Homo sapiens: one gene and its partner. The protein of the gene in region 2 interacts with the protein of the main gene of each other region in a pairwise test. Each region holds a gene or a part of one and is shown on either strand. Other genes may lie near its edges.

Region 1 (8,159 bases), on a different chromosome or scaffold from region 2:
ATTTTCTTAAATCATACAGGCCTTGTGTTTTGTGATGTGCTTACTTGATAAATTTATTCCTTTTCGTCTAGTATAGGGGTGGCAAACTGTAGCTCATGGGCCAAATCCAGCTCCAAGTCTGTTTTTGTAAATATAATTTTATTGGAACATAGCCACGCCCACTTATTGACATATCATGTATGGTTGCTTATGTGCTACAGTAGCAGGCTGGTGTAGTTAGACTACCAAACCTAAAATGTTTACTATCAGATGCTTTAGAAAAATTTGCTGACCCTGCTCTACTAGATGCTTAAGATGGGCTTGCATGTGCAGTATTCTTTGAGTTGTGCATTTTGTAAACAGTTCTTTTTTATCGACTAGATGTTTTAAAAACAGCATGAATGGATGGATATAAAATCCTTGGCTTGCATCTTTGTTCCTTAAGTTTCCAGAAAATGCTGAAAATGCTGTATCACTACTGCCTTGCTTGTTTGTTGTTCTTGAGACGGGTGATGCCAACTATTTTGGCTACCAGACTCCATAATAAACCACCTACCCTAAAAAGAATGGCTTCAAGTAAGAACCATTTTAATTATAATTTCACAGTCTTTGGAGTTAGGAATTTGGGTAGGGCTTGGCTGGATGATTCTTCTGTTCCCTGTGGCTTCAACTGAGGTCACTCAGTGGTATTCTGCTGATGTAGGGCTTTCATGACGATTTCACTCATACCAGCAAGAATCAGCTAGGTCCTCTCCTTCTCCATGTAGGACCTTTCTGGGGAGTTACATATTTTACATAGCAGCTTGGGGCTTTAAGAATAAGTGTTCTGGCCAGGCACGGTGGCTCACGCCTGTAATCTCAGCACCTTTGGAGGCTGAGGCGGGTGGCATGAGGTCAGGAGTTCAAGACCAGCCTGGCCAATATGGTGAAACCCCGTCTCTACTAAAAATACAAAAATTAGCCAGGTGTGGTGGTGGGTACCTGTAGTCCCAGCTACTCGGGAGGCGGAGGCAGGAGAATCGCTTGAAACCGGAAGGCAGAGGTTGCAGTGAGCAGAGATCGTGCCACTGCACTCCAGCCTGGGTGAAAGAGTGAAAGTCCATCTCAAAAAAAAAAAAAAAAAAAAAAAAAAAGTGTTCCCAAAGACCAAAGACCCAAACTCAAGTGGACACTTAAAGACTTTTTGTGAACTGGGATTAGAAATCCCAGAATATTGCATGTTCTATTGGCCGAGCAATTCAGTAAGGCCATCCTGGATGGAGAGGAATGATAAAAAAAAAAATTGGCAGCCACGTTTAAAGTCCCGCAGCCCAATTTTCTTTTCTTTCTTTTTTTTTTTTTTTGAGGCAGATTTTCGCTCTTGTTGCCCAAGCTGGAGTGCAATGGCGCAATATCGGCTCACTGCAACCTCCGCCTCCCGGGTTCAAGCGATTCTCCTGCCTCAGCCTCCCGAGTAGCTGGGATCACAGGCGTGCACCACCACACCCGGCTAATTTTGTGCATTTTTAGGAGAAACAGGGTTTCACCATGTTAGCCAGGCTGGTCTCGAACTCCTGACCTCAGGTGATCTGCCCACCTCAGCCTCCCAAAGTGCTGGGATTACAGGTTTGAGCCACCGCACCTGGCCTGCAGTCCAATTTTCTTACCCTTTTAAACAATTTGAACTTTGTACCTGCAGACCTTGAAGATTATTATTATTATCAGTTTAACACTGTAAATAGCATAGCTCTCAGAGTTCAGCCTCTGGCAATTTTCCCAGGTAAATGTAGGCCTTATAGGTTTATATCTTATTTTCAGAAAGATTCTTAGATTATAGCTTCGACATATGTAGCACCCCAGTGACACATATGTTGGATATTCTTTGCTTGTATTCAAATGACATTCCAAAAAGAGACAGAAACAAGCACAAAGGTGTGGAGCCAAGGGGAAGTGGAAACATTCCAGGAGTTTGTATGGTGTGTGTGGAGGAAGCAATAGACGATGGATTGGAGAGAATGGGCAAGGGCTAGATTAAGGGAAGTGCTAGACAGTGACACCAGGGGTGGTAAATTTTTGAAAGCTTTCTCTAATCTGCAGCATGGAAGATGGATTGGAAGCAGCAAGACTGGCAGGGAGACCACATAAAAAGCTGCTGCATGGCCAGGCGCAGTGGCTCACGCCTGTAATCCCAGTACTTTGGGAGGCCAAGGCAGGTGGGGATCACTTGAGGCCAGGAGTTTGAGACCAGGCTGGTCCACATGGTGAAACCCCGTCTCTAACTAAAAATATAAAAATTAGCCAGGCATGATGATGGGCATCTGTAATCCCAGCTACTCAGGAGGCTGAGGCAGGAGAATCGCGTGAACCTGGGAGGCGGAGGTTGCAGTGAGCCAAGATCGTGCCACTGCACTCCAGCCTGGGTGACAGAGCGAGACTCCGTCCCAGAACAAACAAACAAAGCTGCTGCATTAGTTTAGGGGAGGTGGGCTAAGAGGGAAAGATTCTAGTTATTTATTTATGAGGAAGCATCAATGGGACTTAGTGGTTGTTGGGTATGGAGTCAGGGCAGAGGGGTGGTGGGAGAAGAAGGAATCAAGAATGGCCCCCCAGTTTCTGAATTGGTCAACTGGGTGGACAGTAGTTTAGACATGTAGAACGTGGGGTACCTCTAGGACACCCAGGTGGAGAAGTCTGGCGGGCTTTTGTGAATAAGGAACCCAGATGAGTGGCCTGAGCTAGAGAGAGTGCACTTGGGAGTTGCTGATATGCGGTAGATAAAGAAGCGGAGTGGATGGAATGGTCCAGGGAGAATGTGTGGCGTGAGACCAGCTGAGGAGAGAATCTGTGAAACTGAGAAGTGGTCACAGGGGTTAAGACAGGAGTCATGCCATGACACCAAGGGAGTTTCAGAAAGAGTGGGCTACTCTGTTCAATGTCACTGAGAGTTCTAACAATATGAGGACTCAGAGATGGCTTGTGGTATTTAGGATCCAACAAGCCATTCATGACTGAGAGCAATGCAGTGATGTGGTGTGGACAGAAACTACATAGGTTTGAGGAGCTGAGGAGCTGCTGAGGAGGTAGAGATGAGGGTAGATGACTTTCAAGATATTTATGAAGGAAAACTCAGAGAGGGACTAGTAACTGAAGCAGAATCTAGAGGGACAGCGAAAGGGTTTCTTCCTTTTTCTTGAGGACAGGAAAAGCTTAAACATGAATAGATGATGAAGGAAAGAGACAAGTAAAGAGAAGTTGGTAATTTTGGAGTGAGAGGGGGAGAATGATTGAAAGGTGTTTGAAAAGTTTTCTGAGGATGTGGGAGGTGAAGAAATAGAGAACAGAGATGGAGAGATGCCAATACAGTGTCCTTGAAGTATTTAATTCCCTTATGGTTTAGGATTGTCTAGTCCACATATTGAAATTACCTTGGTTTCAATCAATAAACCGAACATATCAAGCGATATTTACACATTTATTTTATATTATTTACACATCTTTTCTCCAAAGAACAGAATCAATGTTTTACCCCTCTCAATGCCTTCCACATAGGGGGTGCTCAAAAAGGGCAAATAAAGAAGCTAGAGGTCTCTTACCTGTATTCTGAGTATCTTAATATGTACAAAACATAGCCAAGACCGTGCCTACAAGAGATAAGTCTCCTCAAGCATGAAAATATTCACACACTTCATATATGTAAGGTAAAAGGTAAAATGTCCATCTTTATTTATTTATTTTGAGACGGAGTCTCACTCTCTTGCCCAGACTTGGAGTACAGTGGTGCGATCTCGACTCACTGCAACCTCTGCCTCCTAGGTTCAGGCGATTCTCCTGCCTCAGCCTCCCAAGTAGCTGGGATTACGGCGTACACCACCACGCCCGGCTAATTTTTGTATTTTTAGTAGAGACAGAGTTTCGCCATGTTGGCCAGGCTGGTCTCGAACCCCTGACCTCAAGTGATCCGTCTGCCTCAGCCTCCCAAAGTGCTGGGATTACAGGCGTGAGCCTCCGCGGCAGGCCAGAAAATGCTCATCTTTTGAGGAACCTATTTGTTCCCATTTAACAAAGTTGGTTATCAGCATTTCCTTCACCATAGGAGTTTAAAAATAAAAAGAGGAGAGGAGGAGGAAGAGGGTGTTCTAAAGGCAGGCAGGCAGGCAGGCAGGCAGCAGCAGGAGGTGGCACGATCTGCCTTACCGTAAGGTGCCAAAAAGCAGTGAAAACCATACTCCCAGCATGCAGGCCTGGGGTCGCTTAGCTCTGGAGCTTACAGCCTTCATCATTGACCAATAGCCCCCAAAGGACGTTGCTGTTTTGAGTCTTAAGTAACGTTGAGAATGACCATTTGAACCATTCAAAAAGTCCTTGCTATATTCTAATTTGGCACCATCTCCTGTATTTCACAGTTTGGAAAGAATTCTATAAAAGATGGATAACAGTAAAACACAAAAAAGCTGGTGCTGAGATGGTAAACCTGGCTGCCCCGGCTCCTTTGCCCAAACTGTTTTCCCAGCCCTAATGTCCTCCCTTTTTCCTCCTAGGACTTCTTTTTCTTCCTTCGAGGTTGACCATAAATGCCGCCTCTAGCCCTCTGCGGCGTCCAAGCAGAAGTCGTCTCTAGCTTCTGTGCCAGCATCGCACCGTGGCTTGGCTCTGCACGGGTCATCGGACTTGGTTGTGTACATGGCTGTTTTCCCCGCTAAGTTTGGGGCGCCTCGAGCCCAGGCGCCGTGACCGTGATCGTGCGCCCACAGGCACCTGGTGCAGCGCGGGGCGCACGCCGCGGCTGGGCTAGCTTGCGGAGTTCACGGGGGTCACTCGGGCACAGGCTTGTGACCCAGGCGCGGAGAATGATTCACGGGGTGGCTCTTTGCATTCTTTGTCGGGTAGTCACGTCGGGCCGGGCACCCCGCCGACGGATACCTGCGGATGGAAAGACACCCGGCCCGACGCCAGCGAGCGGGAGAAGCCTGGATGGAGCCAGCTTCCCGCCTGCCCGGAACCCGCCGGCGACCGGTGGGCGGGGCGCGGCCGCGGGGGCGGGGTGGAGGGGGGTTGCTCGGCCGCTCCCGCCCCCTCCCCGCGCGCGGAAGCCACGCCCCCGGCCGCGCGCTCGCGCTGGGCGCGCGCCCGCCCATCCGCCCTCCGCCCTCCGCCCTCGCGCCCTCGCGCCGGGGGCGGGCGCTGCGCGTGCCGGGCGGAGAAGCGGCGCGAGCCGGGCGCTGCGAACGTTCGCCGCGGGGGTGGCTCCGGGGCCTGAGTAGGCGCTGCCGCTGCCTCAGCCGAGGGGGCTGGGCCGGAGCGTGCGGAGGAGTGAGGCCGCAGGAGACCTTCCCGACGACCCCTGCTCCGGCGGGGAAGTGAGCAAGGTGGGGGTCTGCGGCCGCCGCCGGGGCTGTGGGGAGACGAGCTGGGCTGGAGCCTCGCGCCCGCGAGGTGCGGGACGGCAGCTCGCGCTGCGCCGGGACTGGGGACCCGGGAGCCTGCGGGTGCGGCGCTGCAGGAGTCGGGGAGGGCGCGGGGAGCCGGGGCCGCTGCACCGCGCGCGGCTGCGAGGTGGGACGGCGCGGCTAGCCCCGGAGGGACAGGCAGAGGGGATGCGGCGGATCCCGGGCCGGGAGGGGTATCGGGGTCCGGAACGCGCCGGGGCACGGGCGCGAGCGGGGGCCCGGCGCCGGGCTGATGCTGCCCGAGCCCGGCTCGCCTGGAGGCGGCTCTGCGTTAGGTGCTGAAGGGGCGAGTGAGGCAGGTCCTGGCAGAGGGCAGGTGAGGCGGGCAGGCCCTGGCAGAGGGAAGGGTATTTATTTCAGATCACCCCAAATCACTGTTTCCCGAGGCGCCTAATAGCGAACCTGTCCAGGAGGTCACCCTGGACAGGAAAGAAGTGTCCCGAGACGAGGATGCCGGTGACGAATACTTGCCCTTAAATTCCTGTGCCAGGCCTTGGGATTAGGAAGACCTTCCAGCTACCGTAGGTAGAGACCCGTAGTCAGCACTGGGGCCACGAAATAGTATGGAACACCGTCATGTTATTGAGGTGCTGACAGTGTGGCTGTGAAGATATGCACATGAAATACAAAGGAGCGTCGAATTTTATGTCGCATGCCCTATTTACTTTCGGTCTCTTTTGTCTTTTCCCAGTATTGGGAAATTGGAGCCATAAATTGCGTGGTTTTGGGGATAAAGCAGAAAGGTCAAAAGAAGCCTATGGGAGAAATTTGGGAGAGTTTTGAAGGCTCCTACGGGTAACATTTAAAGGGGGCTCTTAGATGGGGAAAAAAGACGTTTGGAAAGAAAGGAAGTTTCCTTCCTTCCCATCTAGAAATAAGCTCCATGACTATTGACTGCTAAATCTTCAGAATGTTGCCTGGCTCACAGCGGTTGAGCCATAAGTGTCTATTGCATGAATGAATGGACAAGCAAGGTTTGGCCACATTTGCCATGGAGCAGTGTCAGTCACTCTAGTGTTAGGGAAGGTTGCTGGATTTCTCCTGTTCCACAAGTTCTCTCTCTCTGCCTCTTTTTTTTTTTTTTTTTTTTTTTTTTTTTTTGCTATGCGAGGCAACCCCGGTTCTGAGGTCTGGGCACGTTAAAGCAATGGCTAAGGCGGCGAGGTCTTGGTTTCTGTGGCCATGCTACCACTTTCCCATGTGTCTTTCATGTTGGCCTTCAAGAGCTTGCTCCTTGGCCTGTTGCTTGAGATCATCCCATTTTGTTCCTTCTCCCATTGGCTTTTTCTATTACTTGAGAAGGAAGAGGGTAGTGTTGTCTAGAGAACACTTTTTCATTTTGGTCCTGGTTCTTGGGTCTTAGACCTGTAGTGCGAGGCTGTTGGTGCCTCTGCTTTTCTGTAAGGGCTGGAATTCTACCTGTGCTCTGCCTTGGTTGAATCTCTGAACTCTGGAGCTCCAGGCTGCTGTTTCAGTAACCTGGGTTGCAGTGCCTGTTGGGTTACTTTGTCTGCCAAATTAAAACTTGACCTTTTATGAGTTCTCTAAGGATTTTTATCATGCATAAGTGGAATTGCCTTTGAAAGGGGTTGTGCAGTCAAGGTAGTGCTGGCAGAGTTTTTGGATGTCCACTATGCCCGAGAGACAAATTTCTACCTATGGTTAGAAAATTAGACTCAGAACCAAGAGAATTTCAACTTATTGTTTATTTTATGTCTTTATGTTACTCTCTCAGGGCCTTAGTTTCTTCGTGTGAAAAATAAGTAATAATCAAAATCTGGCATTGTATAGGAAGCCTTGAAGAAGTAAATTTATTTCTCCTGTTTCAGGGCTGTACAGCCAGCAGGTCTCTTGTTGAGAGGTGCCTAGGTTCTACAATATTGGGTGCCTTATTCCAGGCTCTCTCAATGATATTTTGTTTATGTATTTATTTTAAAACCAACTTTTTGACGTATAGTTGACAAAATAAAATGCACAGATTTCCCGTGTGCGGTTGGATGAGTTTTGGAAAAATGTGTACAGTAGTCCCCCCATTAGCCTCAGGGATATGTTCCAAGAGCACCAGTGGATGCCTGAAGCCACAGTTAATTCCAAACCCTATATAGACTGTTTTTTCCCTATACTTAAGTATCTATGATAAAGTTTTAACTTATAAATTAGTTGCCATGAGAGATTAATGACTTCTCTTAGGCATATGTTTGGCTTCTCTGTGGCATATCCCAATTGCCAGCATCACTACTCTTGCACTTTATTATTAAGTAAAACAGTGGTCACTTGAACACAAGCACTGTGATACCATGACAGTCAATCTGATCATTGAGACAGCTACTAAGTGAGTAACCAGAAGGTGGCTTATGCAGTGTGGATATGCTGGAGAAAGGGATAGTTCATATCCCAGGTGGGACAGAGTGGGATGGCACAAAATTTCGTCACGCTATTCAGAATGGTACACAACTTAAAACTTACAAATTGTTTATTTCTGAGGGGAGACTGCTGTATACTTTGTAACCACCATTCCAATCAAGAAATTTCCATCACCCCAGAATGTTCCCTTATGCTGGTTTGCAGTCCATTCTCTATCTTCCCTACTCCCTTTTATTGATTTCGAATTACACGAGCATCAGAGCTGTGGCACCTAGTTGTGTAGATTGTATTCTGCCCAGCTTTAGGGAGCACCATTCACATTGGAGTCCTTGTGCCTGGCAGCTGCTGGAGTTGTGTAGTGCACACTCTGTGTGACTGTGTGCTGCAACT
Region 2 (7,326 bases):
AGGGCCAATCAGTGCCTTCCTTGGCACTTTTGCTATAACTATAGTGAAAGATAAATTTGTTTTCCTCTGGGATTGTTCAATTTCTAGGATATAAACCTGGAGCTACCTGATACCACCATGTAGAGAAAGAATCCTAAGAATGAAGGCACAGAGAGAGACAACTCAGAAATGGTGAGGTCCAGCCCTAATTGTATAACCTCAGCCCCTGAAACTAGGTATGTCAGAAACCATAGGTTTCTTGTTTAACTTAACCATGTTAAGCATGAGTCATTGATACTCTCAACCTTCCACCCTTTCTGCCTCAGTTTATTTGGCTTAAGCCAGTTGGAGTTTAGTCTCTGTCACTTGGTACCAAAAGAGTCATGAATGAGCTCTTCCTTTCTCCACCATCGTGGTGTGTGCTTGACTCCGCTTCTCACCATGTCTTCTCACAAGACTTTCAGGATTAAGTGATTCCTGGCTAAGAAACAAAAGCAAAATCGTCCCATTCCCCGGTGGATTCGGATGAAAACTGGTAATAAAATCACGTACAACTCCAAAAGGAGACACTGGAGAAGAACCAAGCTGGGTCTATAAGGAATTGCACATGAGACGGCACACATATTTATGCTGTCTGAAGTTCACAATCACATTACCATATCAAGCTGAAAATGTCACCACTATCTGGAGAGTTGGACGTTTTATTGGGAATATATTTTTTCTCTCTGAATCTGTTATGAACTTGTTGGTTGGCTGGGTTGAGTAATAAATATGTGAGACCTTTCATTTAAAAAAGAATAATGAATGAAACATTCTATATTTTATTCTTTTAATTAATTTATTTTTGAGACAGGGTTTCACTCCTGTCTCTGAGGCTGCAGTGTAATGGTGTGATCTCGGCTCACTGAGGTCTCTACTTCCTGGGTTCAAGTGACCCTCCCACATCAGCCTCTCGAGTAGCTGGGGCTACAAGCACACACCACCACACCCAGCTAATTTTTTGTATTTTTAGTAGAGAAGGAGTTTCACCAAGCTGTGCAGCCTGGTCTCGAACTTCTGAGCTCAAGTGATGAGCCTGCCTTGGCCTCCCAAAGTGCTGGGATTACAGTCGTGAGCCACTGTGCCCAGACTACATTCTACATTTTGATACTCACTTTGAAATTCAAATGTATTAAAGGAGAACATTGATTTTATATTTTTGTAAAGGCAATCTTGTTTTTTCTTTTTTTGAGACGGAGTCTCGCTCAGTCGCCCAGGCTGGAGTGCAGTGGCACGATCTCGGCTCACTGCAAGCTCCGCCTCCTGGGTTCACGCCATTCTCCTGCCTCAGCCTCCCGAGTAGCTGAAGGCAATCTTGTTTTAAAGAGAGAAAAATTTGGGCCAGACACAGTGGCTCATGCCTGTAATCCCAACACTTTGAGAGGCTGAGGCAGGAGGACTAGATGAGCCGAGGAGTTTGAGACCAGCCAGGGCAACATAGTGAGATCCCCATCTCTACAAAACAAACCAGAACTAGCTAGGCGTGGTGGTGCATGCCTGTAGTCCCAGCTACTCAGGAGGCTGAGGCAGGAGGATTGCTTGAGCCTTGGAGTCTGAGGCTGTAGGTGAGCCGTGATTGCCCCACTGCACTCCAGCCTGGGCTACAGAGCAAGACACTGCCCCCACCCCAGAAACAGAAAATGAAAGAAAAATTTGACACAAATTGTCACCTTAACAATTTTAGAAACAGTTTTTTGCAGTTTTTTTTTTCTTTTCTTCTTCTTCTTCTTCTTTTTTTTTTTGACAGGGTCTCATTCTGTCACCCGGGCTGGAGTGCAGTGGCATGCTTACGGCTTACTGCAGCCTCAACCTTCCGGGCTCACACCATCCTCCCACCTCAGCCTCCCAGGTAGCTGGGACTATAAACACGCGCCACCATGCCTGGCTAATTTTTGTATTTTTAGTAGAGACGGGGGTTTCACCATGTTTCCCAGGCTGGTCTTGAACTCCTGGGCTCAAGTGATCCTCCCAGCTCAGCCTCCCAGAGTGGCATGAGCCACGATGCCCAGCCAATTTTTTCTTTCTTGAGTCATTAAGCTATGTGAAACTTAGTGGATAGAAATTGTAAAACAGTCCAAATGTGTTTAACCTCCATGGTTATCCACTGGGGAATATGGGTCAATAGAGACAAGAGGACCACTCTTGTTTCTCAAAATCTATTTACCTTTCAGTTCCTAACGTAAACACATTCCAACAAAATTAACAACTGTTAATTGGAATTCATTCTAGTTGTAGGGGAAAGGAAATATTTAAATCCTTTTCAGATTTTGTTTTTGTTTTTGTTTTTTTCTTTCTTTCTTTTTTTTTTTTTTGAGATGGAGTTTCACTCTTGTTGCCCACACTGGAGTGCAGTGGTGCAATCTTGGCTCACTGCAACCTCCACCTCCTGGGTTCAAGCGATTCTCCTTCTTCAGCCTCCCGAGTAGCTGGGATTACAGGTGCATGCCACATGCCCGGCTAATTTTTTTTTTTTTAAGTAGAGACGGGGCTTCACCCTGTTGGCCAGGCTGGTCTCGAATTCTTGATCTCAGGTGATCCGCCCACCTCAGCCTCCCAAAGTGTTAGGATTACAGATGTGAGCCACCATGCCTGGCTCTTTTCAGATTAAAGAAAAAAATTATCTTCGTATCTTGACCATGCTACCTTCAAACCAGTTTTCATAAAAAAAAAAATCAAGACAAGAGCAATATTAGATTTATGTCTGACAGCATTAAAAAGCTGCAAGCACAAGAGGATGGAGAATACATTTTCTTTTTAATATCTAGGGAACATACATGAACACTGATAATCTATTAGGCCAGAAAGAAAATATCAATTTCAAAAGGTAGAAACATTACAGACATTTTCTGAATATAGTATGATAAAGCTAGAAATTAATTATCAAAAATTCCCCTGTGCTGGAGATTAAGAAATTGTCTTAAATGATGCTTGAGTCAAAGGGGGAAATAAGAACCAATGCTGAACTTCTAAGATGGAATTAAAGCATAAGGACAGTTGCTAGCATCTATGCTGTCATTGTGTGAATTAGAAAAGGAGTTCCTTTTTCAAGTAAAAGCAGAGACCAACCCTGCTGTATCTGTGAGTAGTCAGTGACGATGGCCTGGAGCCCAGCTGGCTGAAAGATGAGCATGAGGCTCTGGGGAATTAGAGCCAAAATGAGTTGGTAACTGGAGAAGAAAGAAAACATATAAATTTCTCTTCTCTAGGGGAAAAAAAACCTGAGTATGAGTTTTCCCTTAAGACTGGAAGCAAATTTCTATTAAAGTGCTTGCTAGCAAGATTTTGAAGGCCAGGAAAAAGTCATACACAAGAAATGTTTCTTTGATTGAGTTCTATATTCACAAGACCTGACTCCTAAGAACAAAAAGACAAGAAAGCAGCTTATTAAAATGCAAGAAGTTTAATAAACTTGTTACTTTCTATAACCCACTAGAGAATTTACCTGTTTCAAATGCTTTTTATTTTTTAATTTTTAATTTCTTTTTTTGAGGCAGTGTCTTGTTCTGTCACCCAGGCTGGAGTGCACTGGCACGATCTCAGCTCACTGCAACCTCCTCCTCCTGGGTTCAAGCAAGTCTCATGCCTCAGCCTTCTGAGTAGCTGGGATTACAGGTGTGTGCTGCCATGCCCAGCTAATTTTTGCATTTTTAGTAGAGATGGGGTTTTGTCATGTTGCCCAGGCTGATCCTGAACTCCTGGCCTCAAGTGATCTGCCCGCCTTAGCCTCCCAAAGTGCTGGGATTACAGGCATGAGCCACTGCACCTGGCCAATTTTTTAATTTTTTGTGATAGATCTTGCTGTGTTGCCCAAACTGGAGTGCACTAAGTAGCACAGTCATGGCTCACTGCAGCCTCAACCTCCCAGGCTCAAGTGATCCTCTCGCCTCAGCCTCCCAAGTAGCTGGGACCACAGGCACACACTACCATGCCCTTCTAATCAAACACTTTAGAAATATAACTATGTCATTTTAACAAGTTACTGTGTAGAGTGTGGAAATCTTAGGGGATCAATAAAAGAGCCAAAAAAAAAATCCCCAAATAAGTTACTGTGAAAAGTAATAGTCAAAGTTTTCTATCACCTGATGTAAATGATTTGTGAGTAAGCTTGCCAAGCCTGTCTTAAAGGATGCCTATATTCAAAGCCAAGAAAAGTCCCAGTTTGTAATTGTGTTGCTATTATAACCATTCAGATAGTCCCTTCTTGGAGCAGTAGAATATTTTTGAATGGAGGGACTCCTGACATTACTTTCCTAAAATCACAAAAGGCTGTCACTCTCAGGGTTTTGTTTTGTGTGGATAACTTTCTCTTACAGTCACATCTCTCCTAGAATGGGAGCAATAGAGCCTCTAGGTGCTATGAAAGGATGGGGACCTCACCAGAGAGGACTGGTCTCAGCAATGTCCTTAAGTGGTCAAAACATGCTGCGGTTGAGGTCAGGATTGTGAGGGGATAGAGGTGACGTAGAGAAGTAACTGAGTGCATTTAGACTGAGATGAATAGCAACCTAGAAATTAAGGAGGGGAAGAGCTATTGTAGAGCTCTTTCTGGCATGAGGAGTAGGGATAGCTCAAGGTTGGTTTTGATGCAGGAGTCACTGGGCAGGAATTTAAGAGGCTTCCATTGTGACACAAAGGAGACAGACACTATGGATAGGCCACAATGGTGCAGTGACAAAATAAAGACCTGGTTGCTAGGGCCAGAGAATAAACACCGGGTGCCTAGAGGAGAAGAGATGGAGCCCCAGCCTTGGTCCCCTTTCCCACCCTTCCTCCCCACAAGGCTGTCTGAGATGCCACCTTCCACCTAAACATCATCTCCCAAATTTTAATCCTTAACTTTGGTCTCTGACTTCTGCTTGATTCCACAGTCTCCACCCACATTTGCACAAAGGACCATCACCTGTCCTTCCTGGAATCTCTAAAGTTTTCTGCTTTCCTTCTGTCCTGATGGCCAGCTCTGCTAAGTCAGCTGAGATGCCCACCATCTCCAAAACCGTTAACCCTACTCCTGATCCTCATCAAGAATATCTGGACCCTAGGATTACCATTGCCTTATTCGAAATTGGATCACATTCCCCTTCCTCCTGGGGCTCTCTCCCTTTCCTAAAGAATAGCAGCCATCAAGTTACAGAACAACAGACTGCACAGAAGTTTAACAATCTCTTAAAAGAAATTAAAGATATTCTTAAAAATATGGCAGGTTTTGAAGAGAAGATCACAGAAGCAAAAGAACTTTTTGAGGAAACCAATATTACTGAGGATGTGTCAGCCCACAAAGAAAATATCAGAGGACTTGACAAAATCAATGAAATGTTATCAACAAACCTGCCTGTTAGTTTAGCCCCAGAGAAAGAAGACAATGAAAAGAAACAGGAGATGATATTGGAAACCAATATTACTGAGGATGTGTCAGCCCACAAAGAAAATATCAGAGGACTTGACAAAATCAATGAAATGTTATCAACAAACCTGCCTGTTAGTTTAGCCCCAGAGAAAGAAGACAATGAAAAGAAACAGCAGATGATAATGGAAAACCAGAACTCTGAGAACACCGCACAAGTTTTTGCAAGAGATTTGGTAAATCGTTTAGAAGAAAAAAAAGTCCTTAACGAAACTCAACAAAGTCAGGAAAAAGCAAAAAACAGACTTAATGTTCAAGAAGAAACTATGAAAATTAGGAACAACATGGAGCAGTTACTACAGGAAGCAGAACACTGGAGTAAACAACATACTGAGCTCAGTAAACTGATAAAATCCTATCAGAAATCTCAGAAAGACATAAGTGAAACTCTTGGAAATAATGGAGTCGGTTTCCAAACCCAGCCAAATAATGAAGTGTCGGCTAAGCATGAGCTGGAGGAACAGGTGAAGAAACTGAGCCATGACACCTATTCATTGCAGTTGATGGCAGCTTTGCTAGAGAATGAATGCCAAATCTTACAGCAGAGAGTAGAGATTCTCAAGGAACTCCATCATCAGAAACAGGGAACTCTGCAAGAGAAGCCAATTCAGATAAACTATAAACAGGACAAGAAAAATCAGAAGCCATCAGAAGCAAAGAAAGTAGAAATGTATAAGCAGAACAAGCAAGCAATGAAGGGTACATTTTGGAAAAAAGACAGATCCTGTAGAAGCCTGGATGTTTGTCTTAATAAGAAAGCTTGCAATACCCAGTTCAATATTCATGTTGCAAGAAAAGCTCTTAGGGGAAAAATGAGGTCAGCTAGCAGCCTAAGATAGAAAATACCAAAAGCAGATGAAAAGGTGAATCCTTAAAAAACTACATCTGTTACCTCCAACTTGTCAGTCATGATCAATCATCAAACCTTGGGCAGATCTGCTGGTTCAACCAAGAAAGAGCTATAGAATAAGGAGATTGACACTTATATTACTCATTACTTCAGCAGTTATGTAAGTCTGGTCTTTAATGACCATTGTGTCTACATCAAGTTCATAACTTTTCACCTTTACAATCTGCTTGTTTTTTTTGTAATTATTAGATAGACAGCCTAGAGTGAGAAGTTAAAGGTCCAATTAAGTAAAGATCTAAATAAAAACCAGAATACAAGGGAAATTTTTTTTTTCTTTATTTAATCATTGCCTGGGGGCAGGGGGAGTTCTGGGGGGAAAAAGTATATAGTGTTTTTGGCCAGGTGCAGTGGCATTTTGGGAGGCCAAGGTGGGAGGATCGCTCGAGGCCAGGAGTTTGAGACAAACCTGAGCAACACAGCAAGATCCCATCTCTAAAAAAAAAATTAAGTGAAAAAAAAGTACATAATGCTTTAGTTGTGACCTTTTAAAGCTCCCTTTCTAAATGTATGTTTCCTTTTCCTATTATACACTGAAGTGTGGGATGTGGGGGAATTTAAAAAATGCTGATAATCCAACCCTAACAAATCATTTTTCTCTTATAAATCTGCACTGGCTCTACTTTTCCTAAGGTGCCTCCCTTGCTCCTCTGCTAGTGAACTGTGGGCATACGGGGCAGCAGAGGCCCTTGGGAAGGACCCCCTCAACTTGTTTGGAAGAATAGAGACATATCTGAATTTTATTTTATTTTATTTTATATTTTATTTTATTATTTATTTATTTTATTTTATTTTTGTATTGTATTGTATTGTATTGTGTTATATATTTTTGAGGTGGAGTTTTGCTCTTGTTGCCCAGGCTGGAGTGCAATGGCACGATCTCAGCTCACTGCAACCTTCACCTCCCAGGTTCAGGCGATTCTCTTGCCTCAGCCTCCTGAGTTGCAGGATTACAGGTGCCCACACCACACCCGGCTAATTTTTCTTATTGTTTAGTAGA

What was found. The genes of interacting proteins can lie anywhere in the genome.
Region 1: the proteins of SPZ1 (region 2) and DTNB interact in binary tests that used the Homo sapiens proteins (3 or more experiments, as listed by UniProt).

The regions. Positions count from the first base shown.
Region 1 is NC_000002.12:25,670,551-25,678,709, reverse strand, and holds the start of DTNB (dystrobrevin beta), read left to right. Parts: upstream 1-5,132; 5' UTR 5,133-5,324; intron 5,325-8,159.
Region 2 is NC_000005.10:80,315,251-80,322,576, forward strand, and holds SPZ1 (spermatogenic leucine zipper protein 1), read left to right. Parts: upstream 1-4,751; 5' UTR 4,752-4,965; coding exon 4,966-6,258; 3' UTR 6,259-6,592; downstream 6,593-7,326. UniProt on the Homo sapiens protein: Transcription factor that binds to the DNA sequence 5'-CANNTG-3'(E box) and the G-box motif. May play an important role in the regulation of cell proliferation and differentiation during spermatogenesis.